Homo sapiens: one gene and its partners. The protein of the gene in region 3 purifies or fractionates together with the protein of the main gene of each other region. This does not show direct contact. Each region holds a gene or a part of one and is shown on either strand. Other genes may lie near its edges.

Region 1 (8,024 bases), on a different chromosome or scaffold from region 3:
AATCCTAGCACCACAAAGGCAGATCTGTGTCTGTCTTCCTCACCGACGTGCCCCAATAGAGGGGTGAGACTATGCAATGTTACAAGGTGTTGGCACAGAACATAAAGGATGGGGGAAAGAGACTGAGAGGAAGGTCAAGGAGAGGGGAGGATGTAAGGGAAAGAAAAGGGAAACAGAAAGAAAGGAGGGAAGGGGAGGGGCAAGGATGTAGAGAAGAAAAGGCTGGTGGAGCCCCTGACACCTCCATGCGTGTCTTTGGCACTACTGGCAACTCCAATGATGAGCAGGTATTCCTGCTATTTTGTTTTTGAATATAAAGTTCTGTAAGAGATACAATCACAGGAAACATGAGGGCTCACAGATAAAAACAGCCAGAGCATCCTAGCTTCTCTCATGCCTCAACAGCTAAAGTCTACAGAAAACTGGCCAGGCGTGGTGGCTCACGTCTGTAATACCAGCACTTTGGGAGGCTAAAGCAGGTGGATCATCTGAGGTCAGGAGTTCGAGACCAGCCTGGCCAACATGGTGAAATCCCGTCTCTACTAAAAATACAAAATTAGCTGGGCGTGGTGGTGTGCGCCTGTAGTCCCAGCTACTCAGGAGGCTGAGGCAGGAGAACCGCTTGAACCTGGGAGGCGGAGGTATCAGTGAGCTGAGATCACACCACTGCATTCCAGCCTGGGTGACAGAGCGAGGCTCTGTCTCAAAAAATTTAAAAAATAAAATAAAATAAAGTCTACAAAAACTTCATCAAGGCTTTGACAAACGCACAAATACCATTCAAACTACAATAATTTTTATCATCTCTCTGTAACAAAGGCTCAGTGTCAGTGTCTGGGGAAGATGTGAGAAACCACCTGACCTTAGTCCCTCCATCCTGTGGCACAAAAAGACACTTCTAAGGGGTACATGGTAAGACTGCCTTCTTATCTTTCTGGAACAAAAGGCATCTGGGTTCATGTTCTCCAGTCAAAACAGACTCTTTCTCCCGAAGGTCAACTCATGAATACATCTCAGTCCTTTTGTGGACCCAATGCTGAATATGGGCACAGAGTGGGCAGACCCTCACATACACCATCCCCAAACACTACCATGAGAAGCCCTACCCACAGGGCAAAGGTTCAAAGGCTGGCCTTTCATCTAGTGGCCACAGGCAAATGCAGCATAACTGGAATGAGCCATAACCAGGCAGGTCTGGCTGTCTAAGCACCTGAGCTGAGCTCAGCTGAGCAGGTGCTGCAATACTACCTGAGGCTTCAAACTCTGCATGGACGTAGGCCAAGCAAAGATGTCCTTTAAGCTTGCCATGCCCCGGGTGGAAAAGGGGGCCAAACCTAGAGGAACATTCTCTTCCATAGAGACAAGGGCCAGGGTGGACAGGGCTGTGAGGACAGACAGGTGTGAAATCAAATCAGAGGTCAAACCCCATCCCTGCTGCCTAAGCTACTGAGTCACAACCTCAGAAATTCAATCTCTCTATTGTGGGGGGAAAAAAACAAAAACAAAAACAAAAAACAAACAAACTGTATTTTCAGGGGTACTGTGCAGCCAGTCAACCCCACCTTAACTGTGTGTACTAAGTGCTCAGGACATGCCCCTGGTGTGGCAGGGCCAGGTGAGGAGAACATGTTGACACTCCTCTCCGCAGGCTCCTTCACCTCATAAGAGCAGGATGCACCTGTCTGTGAAAATAGGCAAGAACGGACGAGACACAGCAACAGGGCTTGCAGAACCACCTACGATGTATTAATACGTGCTGTACCGGAAGGTAAGACTAAGACAATCCAGATACACCACAAGGTAAGGTTCCTCCAAGAGACAAAATGAGAAGAAAATATCGATCAGCGATCTTCAGGGGGAGGAGGCGGTCCGTGTTTACAGAACAAAAATAAGGAGACTGTGCCCAGCAGATGACCCCTCCCCACTGACTCAAGGCTGCACTGCGTCCGCGTGCCCTGCTGTACTGCGGCCCAAACCCACGTGCTGGGTATATGGGACACGGGAAGTTAAAAATAATCTGAGGAAAGCAACCCTTTTTTCCCTAAATAGCTACTCTTGGAGTTATTAAAATAGGAAGAAAGAATGTATACATCTAATTAATCATTCTCTTTGGCCATGAGCAAACTCTACACTGGGCACTACACTGGTCAGACAGGAACCTTTCTCTTCCTCCTCCCTAACCCACTGCTGACATCACAGAGTCTTCACATGCTGGCCTCCAACATCCAGAAACTGGCTCTGCAATCTGGCTCCCTCCCCTCCTCTACCAAAGGTCCCACCAAGCGACTCTTCATGGGAAGATATGTGCAGATGAGGCACAAACAAAAGCCATCAACACACTTGATGTTACCAGGCTCTGGTGCAGGAAGGGCAGATCTCATGACACCCTTCGAGGTCCTGTTAACTGGGCTCTCAGCCCAGGTATGAGAACACAGCTGAAAGACCAGAGTGCACCTGTGAGGCAGTGATTGGGGACAAGAGCAGGTAAGACAGGTTCCTTGCTAGGCTAGGACATGGCAGGAAGCTGGTCCACACAACCTTCTTCCCCACCGTCATCACCAACCCCTCTGCCACTATCGGCCTTGTCACCAGCACAAGGGCCTAAAGGGTGGACTCTCCAGGACTGCCATGCTCGTACCAGCTCATGGCTCTGTGGCTTGCCCTGCAGCTTCTGGTGGTAGTCAAAGGTAAGCCTGTCCAACACCGCCTGTTCCTCCTCATCCACGGTGGCCATGGAGCGCTCCTTGTTGATCTTGTCAATGTCGATGGGCTCTTCTCCCTCCAGGATGGCGTTCCACCAATACTCGCCCACCTTGCTCAGGTTCACCTGGGGACAAGCAGGACAGAGACCTGAGTCAGAGACCTGAGACAGGTGTCCAGGGCTGGGGACAGAGCAGAGCCCACTGAGGGATGGGTGTCCAGGATAAGCTCAGGACCAACTACACAAAGGGAGGTGACAGACAAGAGGGGGTGCCAGAACCCAAGGCAGGACCCTCTGTGCCTGGGAATGCATTTGCTGCCTGTGCTAACATATCCCAGGGAAGAGCTAGGAGGCACATACCTGAGGGGACTGACATTCTGGAAGATGCCTTTATCCTTCTTCAGCAGGTCCTGGATACTCAGGACAGTGCCTGTTCCATGTGCACACCTTGCCCACTCTCATGAAGAAAGGCTATTTTCCAAGACCCATGACACCCCCCCACACCAGGACCTGTCCTGGGCCAACCCAGCCTGCCCCCATGCTTGCCATGGAAGGCTCTGCTTAGCTCTTATCAACCAACTACCTCTCCAGTGATCTCTCTTGCTTCCAAGAGCAACATCCAACATTCTGCTATCTTAGGGGTAAGCTGGGACCTATGAGACTTAGGGCTCAGCCTAATGCATGACAGAATCTCCTGGGGAGTCCTCACCCCATGACAGGGCACCATGCCCTGTCCCCACTTCTTCCTCACTGGGGCCAAGCTTGCTGCATGAGGGGGTCCTCCAGCCCCATTCCCTAAAGTTCTCTGATGGCTTGGGAAGGAGAAACGACCATCAAGAAACAACCCCAAAAGAGGCCTCCTTGGGCACCTCTGTGGGGATGGCACAGACATCCCTTGGTCAAAGGAAGCAGCACCCAGCATTTAAGATCCAGCCCTCAGTGTTGGGGTCTGTGAGACTCATGTCATTACCATAAAAACTTAAAAGACAACTGGAACTGCAGTATGAGAGCAAACGTGAGGGGTGCTGTATGTACCTAGGTGACCCTGGCTGCTTGGCCTGTCCCAGGGACACAGAGGAGGGCCCTGGCCACACCATGCCCTGTTATCAGTGGTCATACAGACACAGAAAACAAGAAAACTGGCTGCATCTGCTGTGGTCAGTGGCTGGGCTCAAAATTCTTACCAGAGTGGCCAAGAAGCAACAGAGTGGGTTTGTCTACTTTGCCCTAGATGAGCACTGCACTTTTTCAACAGAAATACTTGATCTGTGTTTAGATTTCATAATATTTACAATTGAAAGAGGTACATTCACATGCCCAAGTGTGATGGGACTCTCTGATGGGATTAAACCACTAGGTGCTCACAGAAAGGGAGAAAAGGTAGCAAAGGGCCCGCAAGTGAGAGCAGCTCTCATCCATGGAGGTGGCAGCCACCAGGACACTTACTGACCAGGTGGGCAAAACCTACCAAGCCACACTCAGGGTAACTGTGACACTCAAGAGGTCACAGTGAGTCCACAGGACACCACGTCCCCCCAAGAGGGAGCACTGGAGACTCACCAGTATACACGGGCTTGAGAGAGCAGTGTCCTAACACTGCACCTTCCACCTTCCCACCTCCAAGCTCCTGCTGCCAAAACCTACCCACACCAAAGAAGGTACTCAGCACCAGACTCTGCAGAGCCCAGGGATCAAGTCCGAGAATGTGTTCTACTAATGAAGAGGGTGGGCACCGATGTGGTGCGGGAGAGCACACAGTGGAGATTTTCCAGAACTGGGAAGAGCAAGACAAAAACCTGCAATCATGATCTGAAGCCAGCATCCCAGAAATCTTGTCTGACATTCCGAATGCAGATAGGGGGAGTGGTGAACAGGGGGAGTGGGTGGCTCCCCTACACGCCAGCTCTACCCAGTAAATGACGCTGCTCTGCCAGTGTGCAATTTAAATTTGGGATGAATCTTCCATTTCCAGATACTCTGCTAAGCTGGTTTGTCGTTGACTTTACAGTTTGTGTGACGGGGACCTGACTCACCCTCAGAGACCCCAACACTACAAACTCTACCTCGTCTTTACCAAGCTGATGCAATGAAAACCTTCCAAGAGGGAAATGCATTGTTTTCTCTATTCCAGGGAAGACTTCAGAGGAACTCACAGAACTGTAAATCTCTGGAAAGAAGAGATCCTTTACGAATTTTTTATCTTCACCAGTAGTTATTACTGTGATCCATGTAACTTATTTTATTAGCGTTCACAAGTCCTGTAAAACACATACCATTACCATTTACCATACATACCATTTTTTGTATTTAAAAATGAGGACAAACCCTTGGAAGTAAGGGCCTTTTCCAGATTGCCCAGCATGAAGAGGCAAAGCAGAGCTACACTGGGGCTGACAGCCCACCATCAGCACCATGTGGGCAGGGGGTCGGCCTACATACCATCCAGGGGACGGTGCTGGTGCTCTCAGGCCTTTTGGCACTCCACAGACCCCAACACAGGGTTTCACTGGCCAGGTCCAAACACACACCCAGAGTGGAGGGCTCCTGGGCACAGTGGGAGATGGACCTGAAGACAATGAGCCACCTGCCCAACAGGAAGGAGGGGAACATCCCCAAATCTTCTGTGTCCACAAGTGTACTTTGGACACAGAAGTACACTTGAACCCAACAAAAATTAAGATGAGCACTGCACTTTTTCATCAGAAATACTTCATCTGTGTTCAGATTTCATAATATTTACAATTGAAAGGGTATATTCACATGCCCAAGTTGTTTCAAAAATATTCAAGGTTTTCCAGTAACTAAATCAAGTAGGTTTTAAATTTAAGTTAATTAAAATAAAATAATTCAGTTCTCCAGTCACGTGAGCCACCTGTCAAGTGTTTACTCAGCTGCCACATGTGGCTAGCAGCTACTGTGCTGGGCAGTGCAGCTCTCCAAGGGGGCCATCCTCACTCACAGACGTCACGCATGTGCATCAGTGTGGTATTTTATGAGGAGATGTGAGCCGACTTTATATTGAACAATTTCTAATGGAGGCAAAATCCACTTAACACAAAACTTACCATTCAAAAGTGAACCAATGGCATGTAGTATATCCACAATGGTGCACAACCATCACCTTTATCTAGTTTCAAAACACTTTCATTACCTCACAAAGAAGCCCTGTGCCAATTATCAGTCACTCCCCATTTGCTCTAACCCTTCCTCTAAATTGTTCCCTCAACCCCACCAAGCCACTGGCAACTACTAATGATTCTGCCTCTACAGATTTGCCGGTTCTGGACATTTCACACAAATGGAATAATACAGTTATCTGTTTGTTTTTGTCTGGCTTATTTCACTTGGCATAATGTCCTCCTCAATGTTCATCTATGTTGTAGCATGAATCAGAACTCCATTCCTTTTTAAGGTTGAATAATATTCCACTGTATGGATAAACCACATTTTGTTTCATCAACTGATGGACATTTCAGGTGCCCCCACTTTTTGGCTGTTGTGAATAATGCTGCTATGAACATTGATGTACATACATCTGTTTGAGTCCCTGTTTTCAATTCTTCTGTATATTTACCCAGAAGTGCTGGGTCATATGGTAATTCTACAGTTAACTTTTTGAGGAACTACCATACTATTTTCGAAAGCAGCTGCACCACTTTACCTTCCCACCAGCGGCATACAATGGCTCCAGTTTCTCCATACCCTCACCAACACTTGTTATCTTCTGTTGTGTGTGTGTGTGTGTGTGTGTGTGTGTGTGTGTGTGTTTAATTACAGCCATCCCACAGGTGTGGCTAGCACCACTGGTCCTTTGTCCTGACCATATACACACAGGCCTGCCTCCTCTGCCTTCCAGACCTGCTCCAGTCAAGTTTCCATCTGTCATCACTGTAACCAAGTGGGCTGCCCTCCATGCTGGGGCAGCAAACAGGACCTGAGGTGTTGTCTATAAAGGTTCTTGTAAAGGCTCTGGAAGAGGAAGGTCTCAGTTGCAAAATTTTAATTATTTATTTATTTAGTACCCTTAGAATATCTTCTATTTTTAAGGATGAGCATATTAGTAAAAACAATATGAACAATATTATTAGCATGATAATTATTCTAAACAAGGGCATTCTAACATCGTTATTGACTTGCCTGGAGTCCCTCTCCACACTGTTCCTTTACAGAATTCCATCTCTCACTCTGAGCTGCAGATCCCCATTCCTTTCTCCTTCCCAAACTCCAGACCTTTTTTTTTAATGGCCCACGCCTCGTAAGTCATTGAGCTGACAAGCTTCTTTATGCTCTGAACATTCTCATGTTCTATAAACTGGTTTAATGTGTAAATGTTTCTGCTGTCACTGTCCACATTTAACTACTTTCCTTAGAGTAATGCTTCTGGGAGGCCTCAGATATGACTTCTGGTAGTTAACCTTAAAAACCACTGAATGGTACAGAGCATACAGGTCTTGCAGGGCTGTCTTCCGACACCCAGTGCAAGATGCAGTTCTGGGAGGACATGGGTACAATGTTCCTAGGATGGAGTTCAAAGACCTCTATCTAAAAATAACACCTCTGATAAAGTAGTCTGATGGTTTTACATTTGTTTTTGTTTTTTTCTGTGAATATTTTATTTTTTTAAAGTCAAGTTTGTGGAGGTATAGTATGCACATAGTAAAAATCACTCTTTTGAGGTCACATCTCCATGAGCTACTGCTACAATCAACCCACATCCCAGCAGCCCCGTTCCCCTTCTCAGCAGTCCTCTCAGCCCGATGCTCGTTTTGCCATCCAGCATGTCCGTGTCCAGAATGTCACATGTGTGGAATCACACAGTGTGCAGCCCTGTATCTGCTGCCTCCTTTGAGTGTGGGGACTCTTGACGCTCAGCCACACTGTGCTTCATGGCACAGGCAGACCACACACTTGTTTGTGGACATGTGGGCATTTCCATTGTTTTGCAATCAGGTAGAGAGCTGCTGTAGAGATCTGCCTGCTTTCTATTCTCCTTGGTAAGTAGCCAGGAATGCGTGTGTTGGGTCACGTGATGTCAGCTACTGTCCAGACTGACCACTCTGCTGCACCCCTACCAGTAGCACAGAAGAGCACCAGGTGCCCCATCTCATTTAGCGCTTGGTGCTGTCTGCCTTCTTAGCAGCTCTTCTAAGAGGTGTCTAGGGGCATCTCATCATGGTTTTGCCTTGCATTCCCCTAATGAATCATGACGTTAAGCTTCTCATGTGCTTATTAGCCTTCTCATTTTTTTTAACATTTTATTTGTAAAGAATTTTAAGCTTAAAGTTACTAGAATAAGTACAAAGACACCCATACAAGTGTTTAG
Region 2 (8,607 bases), on a different chromosome or scaffold from region 3:
TCCCCCATCTCTCATTCTCTGTGTCTTCCAAAGCACAGAATGAAGTTGTTCTCTGAAGTTTCCTTCTCTCTCTAAAGTCTGGACCCACATAAGAAGAAAAAAAAACCCTATGAACCCTTTTCTGAGTTTTCATGAACTGAATTCATATCACAGAAAGACAGGCTGAAGTTTGTCAACACACTTGAACAGACATATATCCCAAGCCATTGTCTTCTCTGTGGACCCAACAGGCTTTGTACTGGCCATTGTACATGCTCTAAGTCCACTGACTTCCTCTAAAAATCATTTTCTATCCCCTTAAAAATATCGATACTTCCTGGACTCCCTTTTCCCTAAGAGCAAGGGTATATAACTCTCTGGACCTCATATGGTTGGGAAGTAATCGCTGTGATTTTCCTCTGTGTGTAGTGATACAAATTCGTATGCCTTTTTAAAATTAATTTGATTTTTGTCAGTTGATTTTCAGCCAACCTTCAAAAGATGAAGGGGAAGGTTTCCCTTTACCCCTACAGTGGTTAAAACAAGGAATATCTATCCAAAGAATTTGTTATATAGGCAATGCAGAGCTGAAAAGCCGAACAAGGGGAGTGAGTTAAGCCAGAGTTTAGCAACATCAAAAAGGCATTACTACCCTTAATTTGGAGAGAGAAGTGAGGATGCACAGCTTCTAAATCTCAGGGACCTACCTCACCTCACTGGGGAGACCTAGAATCAGGCAAGGGCAGTCTGGTGAGATGGGAAACCATCCAAGAGATACATACAGCCCAAAGAGATGCCATCAGAGGAGAGGGAGGAGAAAGAGAAATAGCCTGGCTATACCCTTTCTCTTGCCCTCCAGTACCTTTCCTTTGCCTGTTAGCCAAATCTGTTTCAAACCCATCTGACTTACGAGCGTGAAACATGCAGGGATAGTCCTCTCTGTGATTTACAGCAGAACAATAGACGCTCAAGGAATCAATCTCGTAGCAAATAGGAACTAAGGCTTAAGTAACTTGCCCACGATCACAGAGCTAGAAGTCCCTGGGTTGTTCTTCAGGGATCATGTGCGCTGAACATGGGAGATAGGTCTTGGAAAGTGACATTAGTCACATTCTGACATGTGGTTTTCTCTGCCCATATATATCATAGGATAATTTCAGGGAAATGTGTGCCCACCAATATGGTGGGAGAGACTTTGTCTTTTGAGTATAGGTGAATGGACTAAAAAGTGATGAGAAAAGGTCTGAGGCCTCCAAGCCATTTTCAGTGTGCAAGTATAACTTCGGGCCTGTTCAAGGTAAGTGAAAGCAAGTGATGCAGGCAAGAAATAACACACTTTTGCACTGGCTCTCCGTTGATAAATTCTAGCTGTTTCTCCATAGTCCTTACTTTCTAGGTGGACCTTGCAAAGCACATTAGACTAGATTGCTTTTCAATGCACAAAACTTGTTTCCCCCAAAATGATTCTAATTGGAAGTGCCAATACTGGCAGAAAATGTGTGCAGGTACTAGCCTTTAAAGTGCTAATGCATCTCTTACCAATCTACGAAGTTACAGGATGGGGCATGAAAAAATATATTTGACGGCACAAAAGTATGAAGCATAGGATTAAGTAAAGCAGATTGAATATGACTGTTACGGGCTGAATTTTGTCTCTCTAAAATTCATAACCTCTCTAAAAAGTCCTAACCCCTAGCACTTCAGAATGTAACTGTATTTGAAAACAAAGTCTTTAAAGGGGTTATTAAGTTAAAATGATGCCATCTGGGTGCGGCTGAAATCAAGTATGATTTATGTCCTCAGCAGAAGATGAAGAGATACTGTGGGCACACACGGACCATGGAAAGAGGCAGTGAGAGGGTGGCCATCTGCAAGGCAAACAGAGAGGGTGCAGGAGAAATCAACCCTGCTGGCACCTTAATCTTGAATTCCCAGTGTCCAGAGCTGTGAAAAAATACATTTCTGTATTTTTAAGACACCCAATCTGTGGCATTTTGTTATGGCAGAACAGACAACTAATACAATACCAAAGAAGCAACATCTAGAATCCCTCAAAATGTGAGGCACTATTGAGGGCTGGAGAAACTAATAATGACACATTTTGTCATATAGAATAATATGGCTGGGCTGCCAGGACCACAAAGCTATCCACTTGGAATGAGAAGTTAGAGTTAGATGTGCACCACAAAAGCACAAATACATTTGTTTTCTCCCCTTCATGGCTGCCCACTTAATTCAATAAGCATTTTATTGTGCATGTATTAGGCAGGCAGTACTCTTGCAGGTTGTAATCTATGAACACCTGATTGCTAAATAGTACCATTATGACATCATAGAAGACTCCTCTTTAAATGATTGCTTATTGTTTTCTTTTTGCTCTTTTACATGGAGTCTTGCTCTGTCACCCTGGCTGGAGTGCAATGGCACATCTCGGCTCACTGCAACATCCGACTCCTAGGTTCAAGCAATTCTCCCTGCCTCAGGCTCCGAGTAGCTGGGATTACAGGTGCCTGCCACCACATCCGGCTAATTTTTGTATTTTTTAGTGGAGACAGTGTTTTGCCATGTTGGCCAGGCTGGGCTTGAACCCCTGACCTGAGGTGATCCGCCCACCTTGGCCTCCCAAAGTGCTGGGATTACAGAGGGGAGCCACCGTGCCCAGCCTGCTTATTGTTTTCTTATTGGTGGAAATAAAATTATCCCAGAATGCCAACACTCCTAAAGGAGGAAAATAATTCAGATCCTCATTGCAGTAGATTTAAAACCACTCTTTTGTAATGGAAATTGTCTAAATCTGCTCCATGGATTCAACAATTCTTTGCTGACATGCCTGTAATCCAGGTAGCTACTTCAGAGGCTGAGGCAGGAGGATCCCTTGAGACCAGGAGCTCAACACCAGCTAGGGGGGAAACAAAGAAAAGTCCTACAAATGTGTTTTGGCAATATGGTAAACTTTTGGTATCCGGAAATGGATTTTTAACCCCTTTCTAAAGATACCTAAGGCGGAAGAATACCAATTTTCTTAGTTGACATATAAAATACAATACTGAGTATTGCTAGAAATAACGTTTTGACCCAAAACAGAAAAATAGTCTTGCAGTTTGTCTTTGTCTATTTTATGCTGCTACAACATAATACCTATGAATGGGTAATTGATAATGATCAGAAATTTGTTGGCTCACAGTTCTGGAGGCAGGGAAGGTCAAGATGGATGGGCCGTCATTTGGTGAAGGCCTTCCTCCTGTATCATTGCATGGTGGAAGAGCTAAGAGAAGGGGAGAAAGAGAGAGAGGGAAGGAAAGGAAAAGGGAAAGAGGCAAGAAGGAGCCAAACTCGTCCTTTTATAAGGAAACTGTCCTTTTGATAGGGACTGCACATTTGTGATAGCACCATTAATTAATTCATGAGGTCAGAGCTCTCATAACTGAATCACCTCTTATTAGGGCCCACCTCCACACTGTTGCATTGGGGATTAAGTTTCCATCACACCGTTTTTGGGGGGATACATTCAAACCACAGCATTGTTACACACAAAATATTTCATATTATATGAAATATGTCACTTAACATTTTTACCTGAATGTCAACAACATAGAGTAATGTAGCAGTTTAGAAGTTATTAAATAATATCTTGAGGATATATAATTCCGACACACATGCATATTAAAGCTGACTCATACAACACAATTGTCACGGCGCAAATTTAAAAAATGAGTTAGGAAATCCCAGCGATGGGTTTTGTGTGCCAATTTATCTCAATTGCTCAAATTTCTCTAATTATTCATCCCAATTGTAAGCCTTCTAAAAAGGAATGCCTATGAGGAAACTTGAAATTTTCTTCTCAATGTTCTTCAGTACAACAGTTAAAAATATTTAAAGAAATGCTGAGTAAGTAGGAAACCCTCAGAAGTAAGCTGAAAATGAACAGTCTCAGTGGGCAAATAGGTCTACCATATAAAAGCTCTATTTGATGATTATCTATTGTAAGATCATCTTTTTTTTTCTGTATGGAAGTAACAAATTTAACTCAGAGAAAAGTTGTATTGCCAAATTCTTGAAATTAAACCTTAGTATCTGGCAACATTTTTCCTCCCATGGTACTAGATTACTAGATTTTTATGTTAAATTTAATTTTCTTGAATTCAAATGTATGAGCTTGATTTCTAAAAAACAAACAAACAAACCAAAAAACCAAAACCCTCATATGGAGAAACATGAAGTTAGCATATAAACAAGAAAAGAAGAAACTTTGATCTATAAATGAAGAAAAATGGGTTTTGATAAGCTCTCTTTGACAGGTCACCCTCCTTGGGCTTCAGAGTTATAAAAAAATCGATACGTGAGATTAGAGATGTGACAGTATTTCTAAATTTCTGTTTCCAACCGTTTCATGACTTTTCATTTCCTCTAGAAAAGACATAGGATATTAATATAATAAGATTTGCAATTTGTTAAATATCAAATGAGTCAACAAATATGAAGCTTCAAGGAAAAGGTGACAACAGGTGGTACCAGACATCTGAGCTGCAGAACAAAGATGGTTGTAAAGTGCACAGAACTGTTACAAAGCCTTAAGAGCTACTATAATCCATGATTATTAAATAACACCACATACTATTTCAATTAGCATTTGCCAAGCTTGCTTTCCTTGTCATTGGATTAAAAATTATACCCGGATTTTCAAGTGTATTCTATTTGTGACAATATGCATTGATAATTTCTCTCCTCACACTGCTGCACTCTCACCTCCGTTCCCAGATTAGCTCCTGGAACTCGAGATATTTTTGTGGCTAGAGATTGCTTTCTTAATGTTAGATTTTCCTTACAATTCCATATATAGTCAAGCATTCCATGCATGGTAGTTAATTGTTTGCTTAATTTGGCAACTGGGATATTAGAATTATGTATCATTAGGCAGTGATATTTTTGTAAGGTTGTTTGCTAGATAGATCCTATTTCATTTATATTAAGTCTTGGGAAGATAAACTTTATTTTTCCAGAGCCTAGCAGTGACTGACACATATTCGAATGAATGAAGGTAGATAGAAAATGTCTATATTCATTTACGTAATGATTAGTTAAGGAGAAAAGTACTTCCCAGCATAAAGATTTCTGGCAACCCTTTGCTTATTTGACTTTTCCCTTCAGGCAAGTTCAAGGCTTGTGAAATTCCTAGAAAGGCGAGGGGAGAGAACGCGTGACACAGAAAGGGGCCGGAGTTCGGGACCCTACGCAGTTTTGGGACGTTATGGGCATGGAGGGAAATGTTTGCTTTGGAGGCTTTGGGTAAGCTAGGGATCCGACAAGCCCTGGGCGCAGGGAGGAACGCTGCCCTCCGGCCTCCAGTCGCGCTCCCCGAAGCCCAGCGCCAGCGTCGCGCAACCTGCCGCAGGGGCGGCTCCCGGGCCAGGCAGCCAGGCGCGCCCTCGCCCCACCCGGGAACGCCAGGCCCGCGCAGGGAGGGGCGGGGCTCCATGGCGGCCCCGCCCCGCCGCCCGGAGGGTCACAATGTAGGGTTAGGGCGGCCGGCGGGCGGGGCTCTGCGGGGGAGGAGCCGCCGGGCGGGGGCGGGGATGGCGCGTGGGGGAGGGGAGGGAGGAGGACTCGCGGAGGGAGGAGGACAACGCCATTCCGGGCGGCCGCTCCCTCCGTCCCCTCTCTCCCTTCCCCAAAGCAGCCCGCGGACCGGCAGCAAAGGAACGTGCGAACGCGTGACGCCGCCCGACTGGCTCGCGCTCTCCCGTGCCCCGGCGTCCTCCGCCCGCTCATGGCCCGGGCCGCCGCGGACGAGCGGCGCTGAGGCGGGCCGCGTGGAGACGTGAGGCGGCCGCCGTGGCCCTCACAGTCGGCGTTTCGCCGCCTGCCCGCGGTGCCCGCGCACGCCGGCCGCCATCGCCTTCGCGCCTGGCTGGCGGGGGCGCTGTCCTCCCAGGCCGTCCGCGCCGCTCCCTGGAGCTCGGCGGAGCGCGGCAGCCAGGGCCGGCGGAGGCGCGAGGAGCCGGGCGCCACCGCCGCCGCCGCCGCCGCCGCCGCGGGGGCCATGACCGTGGAGCAGAACGTGCTGCAGCAGAGCGCGGCGCAGAAGGTGAGGCGAGTCCGCCAGCCGGCGGGCCCCACTTCTCCTTCCGACGGGCTGTCCTCTCCCGCTGCGGCCGGGCGCCCCGGCCTCGCCGCCGCCGCCTTCCCGGGCTTCCTCCCCGGTCACCCCCGGCCCCTGCCCATCGCCTCGGGGGCGTCGCGCCCAGAGCCCAGCTGCGTGTGGGAAGCAGAGTGTAGTTTGCGGGCTTCAATCCACTTCCTTCTGCCGATTGTTTTCCCGTAGCAGACGGTGCCAGGTATTGAGAGCGACCCTCACATTCCTACAGTGCTCTGTGTGGCATCTTAATGAAACTTTATTCTCTCCCCTTAAATGAGAAAGAATAGCTAGTTGTCATCCTTTCTGAACCGATTTTGTCTTTCAAAGGTAGTAGTGTACCAGGCCTGCTATTTTGCAAAACGGTCTCCACCAAAATCGAATTACCTGCCTCGCGGGGCAGGCGTGTTGACCAGGTGGACTCTAGAAGTAGGTGGTTTGCTTGGTTTCTTTTCCTTTTAAGGTTTCCCTTTCTTCTTCTTCTTTTCTGTTTTTTTTTTTTTTTTTTTTTTTTTCAATATAGAAACTGTCCCTAAGAGAGGAAACCTTTCTGGCCATGTTATTCCAGGAATCTTTTGTCCCCTAAGTTTGACCTTGTTCTTTCGTTCACCCTTTACTCTTGCATCAGTCACACATTCAAATGGTCACTCACTAAAGAAAACAATTAAAAAACTGTTTGTGAAACTTTATATCTTTAAAGTGAATAGAGATCATTCTGCTATTTTAGATTTTGCTTTCAGAATCTTAAGTGCACTATCATGGCTTGCACCATGTTCTGAAGAGTAGTTGGCCATGATTTAACTTCTTTTTTTAATTTTTAATTTGCGTGAAAAGCATTTTGGGCAAAAGAGTAAACCGTGCCTTAGTTGTGTTGGTATTACGGGGACAGTTAGGGTTTACTGTGATCAACCACCAGAGTTATGTTTGGTTTATCTGGGTGAGTAATGAATGCCCCACCCTGTTGTAGATTTGGTGTAGATTGCAATATTCTACCTGTGCTTGACTTTAGAATAAGACCTGTTCTAAAATGGGCTGTCTACATACAGCCTGCTAAATTTTTGCTTTGAGATTATTTTTAGAATTTTATGATACTGCTTTAAAGTAATCGAAGATACTCAAGTTTGGAAAGCAAGGATAGTGCATTGTTATTTTAGGCACGTTGGGAAAGTTGTTTTTGAGACTTGTATGTTAGTTGATATTATTGGTAAAGTTAGAAGGATATTGCACACTGCACTTTATTTACAGTGAAATAATTCAAGATTTAATAATGAGAATTTAAAAGAGTTTCCTTCCTAATCCTCCCTATTCTATTTTGAATACCTTCAAGTTCAATTTTTAAAGACTTAAGGCTTAGGAAAGAGCACATGGTCATGTGAACGCTAAGCAATATTTAATATGTATGGTACCATTTGTTTATAATTGTCTTCAGTGTTGAATATTAAAGTCTGTTTCAAAGTGAGAAATACCAATTTTTCACTTCCTAAGTTTGAACAATGGGAAGAACTTTGTAAGTTTAGGATTTTTTTATTTTCATTTGATTTTGACTAAACTGTATTAAATAACTATGCAGGCTCTATTGTATGGTTCAGAGGTTATGCATAAAATTGTAGAATCAAGAATCAAGTTAACGAAAGTGATCTTGGCTGTCGAGTCCAATTTCCTACTTTAATGAATCCCCTCCACACACAAAGGGAGTAGTAGTTAATTCAAAATATTATCATTATGATGCTACTTTTAGTATGGCTGTGTTTTAGATCATTTCATTGTTATTGGGGATTTTTTTTAGAGAAACTTTTATACTTCCATAATATTTAGATTGTTTTACAGAAGAAACACTTAAATGTGTTTGCTTTCCGTATTAATACACGATTACTTTGTTACTCATATTAGAACTATTTAAAAATATTTATATGGATACAAGTAAACCATCTACCTCGATAAGTTGACAGATTTAAATCCGTCAAGCTAGTAACCAGGAAGCGGACTTAAAGCTGGTAACTAGGAAGTGAACTTCACACTTAGAAGAAACAAAAGTGAAAGTCTGTTTTTACTCAGACACTTTATGGGTTATCTAAAAGGAGAGGTGTGTAGTGTATATTGCATAGCCAACATTTTAGCCAGTTTTCTTCTCACCTTAAAAAACTGTGTGTACATATGTGTTTTTAAATTTTAAGTATTTACTATTTAAAATTTAAGTATTTACTATTTAGCTATATTATTTTCAAGATTTTTAAAACTTTTATTTTGCAGATGGATGTAAGTTTTTTTGTTGTTTGCAGCACCACACTACACAAAACTTTCATGATTTTTTGGTTCGCCTATAGAATTCATTAGTCTTTGTCACAATGTAGTATGATGAGGCAAGAGGCTGCCTTTCCCTTTTGATGTGTTCTTTGCTTGATTGCTGGAGTTTGGCCAACCCAGGGACTTATGAGATGTAGTAAAACTGCAGAAAGCTGCTTTTCTGAGGTTTAGGTATTTCAGGTGAGGTGCAG
Region 3 (9,101 bases):
ACAATCTTCCAGGTATAGGGGGTTGTGTGTGTGTATTACACACACACACAATGTATATATAAATTTTTTTTCTTCAGGTAGACAATTATTCCAGGAAAGTACCTCTTCAGAATCACTCATTACAGAGAATTCCTGTAACTCCATTTGCTGATAAAAGTCCCATTAAAAATTACCATGTGGTTCTCAACCAATAGGGATACCTTTGGCATTGAAGAGGCTGAGGGTTGATTTTAGTACTGCTTGTAAGACCATAGTGTTCCAGAGGCTCTGTAGCTGGCTTCTTTGGGAATCTGAAGTTGGTCCTGTCTTTGAGACATGGCCAAAAGCACATTTTTCCTCACTTGATGCAGAAGAAAATGTTATCTCCTGCTTGCTCAGATCATAGCCTCGAGGCAGATCACACAGCTCAGGATGCACATGGACTGGAACAGCACCAGGGCAAGCACCCCAAATCACAAAATAATCATGTTAGGATGACTAAGTTGGGAGGCTGAACTTAAAACCCTATAGCTTTGTTCAGAATATTTTTTTCTTTGCTTTTTTCATTAAGTTTTACTGACCAAAAAGGTGGAAAAAAGAACCTAAATTTTCTGCACAAAAGCAGTTCTCTGAAACCTGAACTTTACCAATCTGTGTAAAAGTACTCTACAGAAAATACACAAGCAGAAAACAGTAATGTAAGCTTCATCTGAAGTAACGGTTTAGTCACATGACAAATTTGGTTGTCGATTTAGTATGCTGTAGCCCTTATCTATCTAAATTCAGTATGACTACATAGACATTTATTCTCTGGTACTGAATTTCCATTTGAATAGAAACGGCTGCTTTGTGGAAGAAAGAAACTTCAATTTAAAAACAATTTCAGCATCGTTGAAGTGCCAATCAGTTTTCAAATTATGTGTGTGTATACATATGTATGTATGTGTGCATGCATGTATGTTTGTATTATGTGTATTTTTTCCTCCTCTCTCCCTCTCTTGCTCGCTCTAGAGAGAGATACCAAATACTGGCTTGGTGCTATACTGTTTTTTCCTAGTTAATATTTTTATTATTTCTGTCTACGTAAGAAACTTCAAATATTCTGAATGCAACCACACAATCGAGTAAGTTGACAGACATGACAAAAACTACGAAAAGAGGGAGGTAACTAGTATTAATACTTGGCAACCTTTCGTTATTTTTAGTTTAGAGCGGCCTCCCTCTGACATTTTGGAGTCAAAGATGAAAACTCAACTTTGAAGCATAATGGACATAATTACACATTTACCACAGTCATCTACAATTTTATATAACATCACAAAAAGACATCTAAACATTTTTCTACGTCTTTTTTTCATTTGTTAAAACAGCTATGTTAAATACATTTTCAGAATGCATTTGTTAGCCACTTGATAAACATACTAAAAGCCATACAAGACGAATAACATCAGTTACCTTTATATCTAATAACTGTACCAATCACTGTAAGAAGATACAACTGAAGGGGAAGTATTAGATCACCCATGACGTACTGCAAAGGTGTTACACCTTAGACCTAAGAATGATCTGAAGGTGCTGAAAGAGGTGATTCTCTAGAAGGTGACCCAGGGTTTTCTTCAGGTGGAAAAACTGTGAGTGTACAGGCTCGAATGCCACCAAGTGACTCTGGAAGATCAAAAACTTTATGCCACTCATCTTTTTCTGGGTCATATTTCTGGACAATTTCTACCATACAACGATTATTCCAAGAATATCCACCAACAACATAGATTTTATTTTCAAAGACGGCAACTCCAACATCACTTTGGCCTCTTAACATGGCGGCAATTGGGGTCCACTGGTCAAGGGTTGGTGAATAGTATTCACAGCTTAGAACATCATCATAATCACTTGTTCCTCTGAAGTGATTGCCACCAATGACATAGAGCTTATCTCCAACTGTACACATGCAATGCAGACCTCTGACTGTAGTCATTGGAGCCTTTTGCATCCATTTATCTGTATCTGGGTCAAAACACATGAGCTCATTTTGGAAAGTGTCATGGGTAATTCCTCCTGAAATATACATTAAGCCTCCATATACTGTTCCAGCATGACCATAGTGGGGTTCACTCATTTTTGCAACATAGCTCCACTCATTCATTCTTGGGTTGTAACATTCTACTGTGGCCAGTTCACCAGCTGCACTGCGCCCACCAACTGCATACAAATGTCCTTTGAGGGCACTCAAGTGAAAGAATGTGCGCTTTTCATTTAATGATGCAACCTGCATCCATTTATTATACCGAGGATCAAATCTGAAAACTGTATCAACAGCAGTTTTTCCTTTTGTATCATAATTACTCTGACCACCAACTACATAAAGAAAGTTTCCAATGACAGCAATACCATGCTGGTAACGGGGAGCATCCATTGGGGCTAAAGATCTCCATTCTTGTGCCCTTTCATCATACATCCGTAATTCTTTACTGACAACCAGCTGCTGCCTCAAAACTCCTCCTAATGTAACCAAGTGAGTGGAGTCAGATCGAATGGCAGTTCTATCTGACTGCATCACTGGCTGCATATATGGCATCATTTGGTAATTGCTAGCTTCCAAAAGCAAATTCACGCAGGTATTGTCTGTTCTCATGAAATCTACTGTCTGCACGTAATTGATGAGATCCTGTGGTGTCATCAGTGGAAATCGAATATTCTTCATTAACTTTGCAGCATAATCCATCCGAGGGTCTTCCAACCTTAGCCAGCGACAGGCTGCCTTAAAGAGTTCAAGTTCGGTACAGTGCTTAAGACTATTACTGGAAAGCACAAATGCAAGTCGTTCAAAAGGGAGTTTTAGAAACTCCCCAGTACTCAATAAAGCAGGAAAGTTCTTCAGGATGAAATTATTAACATATTTATCCACTTCTATAAGATTGTAGGTGTTAGCAATTCGTCCAACCTCAACACAGTTATCCAAAGAGACTCCTGATATAAGAAATACTTTACAGAAATCCAAAACGGGTAATATTTGTAAAAAGCTAGCAGCTTCAAGTGTGTCCTGAAGATTGTCCATATTAAGAGAAAGTTTTGCAGTATAAATAAAATCAATGATTTTCTTCAGACCAACCTTGTTCACCCCATGAAGCTTAATGCACATCAAATCTTGTTCTTTCATTCCACCTGTGAACATGGCTTTGAAATAATCACTAGCAGACGCCATCATAGCTCTGTGAACAGGGAAGATTTCATCTCCATCACCTGGTACCAGGGTCACATCACAAAGCAATCCTTCTATTCTAAGCTGATCAAAGCCTTGCAATACCACCGAACTGTGAGTATTGCTGGTAAAAAAGCGTGTGGTTCCTGCCTTACAAGGCTGCAAATGGGCAGAGACGCCCATTTCGCCGTTACCAAGGGACACTTTCATGTGAAAGCTTTCCTCTTGCACAGAGATGCAAGCCGGATAAAGAAGTTATAACCGGAATGTTTTACAGGTAACGAGGTGTCCAGAAAGAACAGAAAGCTCGTTTCCTTATCAAGGGAAGGCAGTCACTGCGGCACCCCTCGGGCCACGCCAGTCAGTCATCCACTGAAAATCACCCTGTAGCAGGACCACAAAGGGCTGTGGACCTCAAATCTGATTATTAGACAGATGATTCATCACCTGAAGGCGGTTAAATGACCTGGTTCACCTCGTCCGGCCTGCGCTGCCGCTCCTTCAGCAGTTCCGCTTCGGGCAAGGAAGAGGCGCCGCCACGTACTGTGGCTCCACGGCCCGCTCGGCGGCGGGTCCGGACACCTCAGCGAACGGCCCGCTGCGCCCTCCGCTGTACCTAGAGTGTCGCAGCGGCCACCGGCCTGTCTTTGAGCAAGGGCCGGGAACACAGGCCTGGGCCTGGGCTTGGGCCTAGAATACCGGCCTAGCCCCAACACCGAGCCGCTCCTTCCGGAAAAGCCTAGTCCCAGGATACCACGGGGTGGGAGCGGCCTTAGCGGCTACTGCGGCTGCGCGGCCTCCAGACCTCGTCAGTCAGCGGGAGGGTGGGGGTGGGGAAGGGGGAGGAAGTACCCGGGAGGCGGGAGGGCGAGGGTTGGGGAAGCGGAGCTGTGTGGGGTGGGCGCCAGCCCGGCCTCTTAGAGCTGCCTTGTATGTGGGACCAAATAGGACAGAATGTGTGCAAGCAAGTGTGTTATGCTGCACGTTTGATATAAGTTTTTCGCATATCTGAGCTCTTACGTTCCCCAAATGCATAATTTTTCAAAGCTTTACGCTTCCTAGCTTCTGTTTTTTTGAATAACAGTGAAATGCGGCATTTGTATAAATTGAGAGGAAACCTGGATGCTTAATTTTTTTTTTCCTCTACAAAACAATAATTGTTATCCCACATTATGTAGTAGATACTTCAGTTACAATTTTGGTTCATATTTTCAAATTTGTTACAATTTCAAACGCAAAATATTTGTCTTTACTAGATTGTTACTTTATTATGTAAATGATATATTCTAAATTTTTGGCTTGAAATGCCTTTGTTTTCCACAATTTTAAAAATGGCTACATAATTTTCCAATAACTATACATACTATAGTTTCCTTTGCCCATTGGTTTGTTCCTGAATGTGTACCTTCTTATCCTCCATTGTTTTATAGACTCGGTAGTAAACTTATACAATCTGGTAGCAAAATTTTAGCCCTGTTATGGATAATATTTAGTAAAATACTGATCCAAGACAATATTTCCAAAATATTATCACCAACAATGTTTGTGTCTTTCCCTTCTTCTGACTTTTCCCTTTGTGAGTATTTTATTAACTTGCATTTCTTTAATTAGTGGTAAATTTAAATTTTGACATACAAATAAATGTATACTTTGACACAATTTCTTCCATTTTCCAAATTTTGAAGTTTCTGTCTTTTAAATCCTTCTAGTTCTTTATGCATATGCAAAGTAAGAATGTAGTCATGTTTTTCTTACACTCGCCTCGTTTTTATGTAAAAGATAGCATACCATGTACACTGTTCTGCATCTTTTTTTTTCACTTCAAGATCTTCCTGAATTAGTGTAGAGGGCTTATTTATATTTTTAAACAATTCTGTTGTTGCCTTCTGAGTTGTTACATCATAAGTTATTTAACCAGTGCCCTGTTGATGGGCAGTTCATCTGTTTTGAATGTTTTCTATTGTTTCCAAGGGATGGCAGCAAAATTCAGAAGGCTTAGACTACCACTGTCCTCCACAAGGTGCTCCAGCAGATTGTCACCTTATTCAACACAAGAGGTTGGTTGGAATGAAACTGGCCTGGAGAAATTATTCACTGAATTTTTATCAGCATTGGGAAGTCCTGGAGCCCTGCTTGTTGAATGAGTTAGGGGTGGAAGGGCTCTCTCAGGCCATGACAACTCCCTAATGCTGTGAAGAGCTACTTCCAAGGAATCAGTCTCTATCTGGAAAAGAAAGAAGAGAGCCTCTGTACATGGGAAGTTGGAGCAAGAAATCATGAGATCCTTCTTTTTTTCATCAAACTTGCAAGTAAGATTAATAGCTTAGGAACAGACTTGTGTCTTCATGAAATGATTACTATAGACACTCTTCATTATATTCCCATATGTTTAGTTATTTTAAAAGACTATCTTTTCTGCCTGCATAATGAAATGATTGAATCAAATTTGTCACAATACTTGTTGGTAATGTCAAGCAACTGTATGATAAAGCATCCAGTTCTTAGGGGCATTAGCTCACCATGGATGATATTATTAATTTACCCATGTACTTAATTATTGATTCTACTACATTTATTGTATTCAGTATTTTTGCTTGTATGAAATGTTCACTTTTAACACTGTGCTAATTACATTAAAAAGTGTTCACTTTATGTATATTTTGTTTGTTTGTTTTGTTTTGTTTTGTTTTGACGGAGTCTCGCTCTGTCACCCAGGCTGGAGTACAGTGGTGCGATCTCGGCTCACTGCAACCTCCGCCTCCCAGGGTCAAGCAATTCTCCTGCCTTAGCGTCCCGAGTAGCTGGGACTACAGGTGCGCGCCACCATGCCCAGCTAATTTTTTGTATTTTTAGTAGAGATAGAGTTTCACCATGCTGGCCAGTCTGCTCTCAAACTCCTGACCTTGTGATCCGCCTGCCTCAGCCTCCCAAAGTGCTGGGATTACAGGCGTGAGCCACCATGCCTGGCCCCTCACTTTATATTTTGAAAATTATTCTCTTTATTATTTCGAGTTTTACTTTCAGATCATTTTGCATTTGTTTATTTAAAAAAAACAAACACAAGGTCTTGCTCTGTCACTAAGCTGGAGTGCAGTGGCAGGTTCATAGCTCACTACAGCCTCAAACTCCTAGCCTCAACAATCCTCCCACCTCAGCCTCCCACACTGCTGGGATTACTGGCATGAGCCACCATACCTGGCCTTACTCAATAAATCAATGCCAAGGTTGGTTTTGCAACCTCAAGTGAAGTTCAGTTCATTCATTCCATTCACACTGTATGAAACACTTGATATGTGACTTTTCAGGATAGAAAAGTGAATAAAGGAAACACAGCTTCAGCCCTCTTGAAACTTTTTGCTGAGGGAGAAATAAAACTATTAACCAATTAATTAATTTCAACTCTATCATAAACTCAAACCATAGGCAAAAGAAAAGTGGTTTTTGTCATCAGAAACTGGAAGACTTTAAGCCTTGAAAATTGGATACACAGTTCTGGGATTTAGAGTGCATGGCTAGAGATGTTCATTTGGGAGCTGGGCTATACCTTTTTCCTGAAGGCCCAAGGATGGATGAGGTCTGGTAGAAATTGAGTAGTGAATCAGAAGACCAAAACCTGGATCTTGAGGACCTTTACATCTTAATGTAGTGAACAGAGTGAGGAACCTGAAAAGGGCATGTGAATGAAATGATAGGAGGACATCCAGGAGCAAAATAGGAGGACAACCAGGAGAAAATTGTGATAAGAGGGTGTTTAAGGGAAGAAATGTGTTTAAAACATGACGTTTTACATTTAGGAAAAGAAAGGACTGGTTTGCCAGAATTAATTTGGCAAAATCCAGATTGGAATATATTGACTAGAGTAAATAGCAGGAGAGGTTGGAGACACAGTGGATGGAAACTTCTTTTAGAAGTTTATCTGTGAGTGGAAGAAGAGCAAGAAGGTAGTACCTGGAGAAAAATGTGTGTTTGTATTATCGGATATAATTTTGTAACCTTTTTACAAACTTTTATTTAGGATTGATTTCAGGGAATGGATATAATGGCACAAAGCATATAAAATTAATACTTTATTTCATAGGCTATATTGTCTTACTGCTTATTTAATAATCTAAAATTTCAAGAATAATTGTTTAATAGTTTTTGAGTACTAGTGGGCTATAATGCCTTTCCATTTGCTTCACTTGCTGTTCTTAATTCTATTTAGATTTCATTTTATGGCATTAATTGTAGTTTTTATTGTTCTTATGAATTATGCTTTTATACGCCCCTCTTAAAAGTATATATAAACCCTTTATGTAGATGTTAGCTATATTCCCTATGATGCAACTTTCTCGATTTTGTTTACATATAACTGTTATTTTCCTTTACATTTCTCCTATTGCCAGACAATTGAGAACATCTAAAACTTATGGAAAATGCGTTTGAAATCCTACTTCTTTCTTTCAAACAAATGGGCTCTCTTTATTAATGTGGATAAATAAAATCCAAATACTCTTCAGAGAGAGTGTAGATGACTGCTCAGAGAGCTCATTTATCACATTCTTCGTACACCAGGGATGCTAATTGTGCAAAAATACTGAAACCTAAGTAAGGCTGGACAAGGATGGCCATCGTAGTAAAGGCCATCTCTGACCAGATGGGGATGCTTCTAGGGAAGTGTATTTAGCTGCCATGCAGAGAATGTCTGCAAACCACCACGTTGTGAGTTTATTGATTCACTGGTTTCCTATTCTCTACTGCCTAGTCATGAAACCCACTCATACTTTGGTAACATTTTATAAATTTCTCTCTTAGCAGAGATGATATGAGGAGTGATCTGCGGATCAGTATTGATAAGAGATGTCTTGAAGACATCCATTTAGTGAATGGTGAGGGGCAGAGATAGGATTCATAGCTGGTTCTACCTGTATGTACAGTGTTCTTTTCTCTGTGTTTAATGTATCTAAGTTAGACTTTGTTGTTTGTCATGAATGCAGAATTGACAAGAGCACTCAATACTAAGAAGGCATTAAAAGAAAACATTGTTTTTGATTTCTTTCATCAGTGTTAAGAAAGAACAGGGAAAGAAAAAATCTATTATTATGTGCCATCTATAAAATAAATAATATGTTACATGTTTTAATCCACCAGTTACAGTGTAAATAGTAATACTATCAAGCTTACTTTATCAATGAAGAAAGCAGGACGCTGAGAGAAAAGGTGATCCACGTAGAGTGCACAAGTGATTGGCAGAGTTAGGATTTGAGTCTAGGTGTGCTGATGGAAAACTTCATGCACTCAGTGGATATCATGTTTCCCCAAGGTTGGGGGCTATCAGGATCGGGTAGGTTCTTCTTTCTTTCTCTTCTTCACAAGTTACCCTGTTGGAGACCCAAACTCACAGCGTCTGCCCTACTCACTGTGCTTCACTCATTTCCTCAATTATTGTCTTACCTGCCTGTGGCATCTGTCTGGGTCACAGACAGACCTCCTATCACCTGCATAAGTGCAGTGAAGAACTCAGGTACCCCAAGGATTCTGAGGGGTTGAGTAACACATAAATCTTCAGTAAAGAGACGGGCCTGAATAGGACTTCTTACAAGTTTAGCACCAACCATGTCCAGAGTGCCTAGCTGGCCTCACTGGAGAAAAGGATTACTCATGAAATCCTCTTGGTCTATTTTCTCCTGTCCTTTGTGAAATGGTGAAGAAAATAATAGACCCCAAACTGTTCTCAGCTCACATATTCTCCTTTTTAGCTGTGGCCTTTGGGCAAGTCTTTTTCCCTCAGAGATAGATGCCTGCTCACAGGGTCTGAGCCGTAAGTAGGAGGAAGTCAAAAGGTATGTGCAGAACAATCTACAAAGTGCTATGTGGTGGTTAGTGGTTATTTCTCTAAACACATCTAATTGTATTGATTCAGACTGTTGATCGAGCTTGCCAT

The links.
Region 1: the proteins of KLHL9 (region 3) and NUDCD3 purify together in Homo sapiens (co-immunoprecipitation; 3 studies listed by BioGRID and IntAct, with this or other methods). This does not show direct contact.
Region 2: the proteins of KLHL9 (region 3) and USP25 purify together in Homo sapiens (affinity purification with mass spectrometry; 3 studies listed by BioGRID and IntAct, with this or other methods). This does not show direct contact.

What each region holds. Positions count from the first base shown.
Region 1 is NC_000007.14:44,389,659-44,397,682, forward strand, and holds part of NUDCD3 (nudC domain-containing protein 3), read right to left. Parts: intron 2,828-8,024; coding exon 2,639-2,827; intron 1-2,638.
Region 2 is NC_000021.9:15,724,375-15,732,981, forward strand, and holds the start of USP25 (ubiquitin carboxyl-terminal hydrolase 25), read left to right. Parts: upstream 1-5,607; 5' UTR 5,608-6,019; coding exon 6,020-6,064; exon of another isoform or gene 6,065-6,314; intron 6,315-6,628; exon of another isoform or gene 6,629-8,607. UniProt on the Homo sapiens protein: Deubiquitinating enzyme that hydrolyzes ubiquitin moieties conjugated to substrates and thus, functions in various biological processes including inflammation and immune response.
Region 3 is NC_000009.12:21,331,472-21,340,572, forward strand, and holds the start of KLHL9 (kelch-like protein 9), read right to left. Parts: upstream 3,934-9,101; 5' UTR 3,389-3,933; coding exon 1,535-3,388; 3' UTR 1-1,534.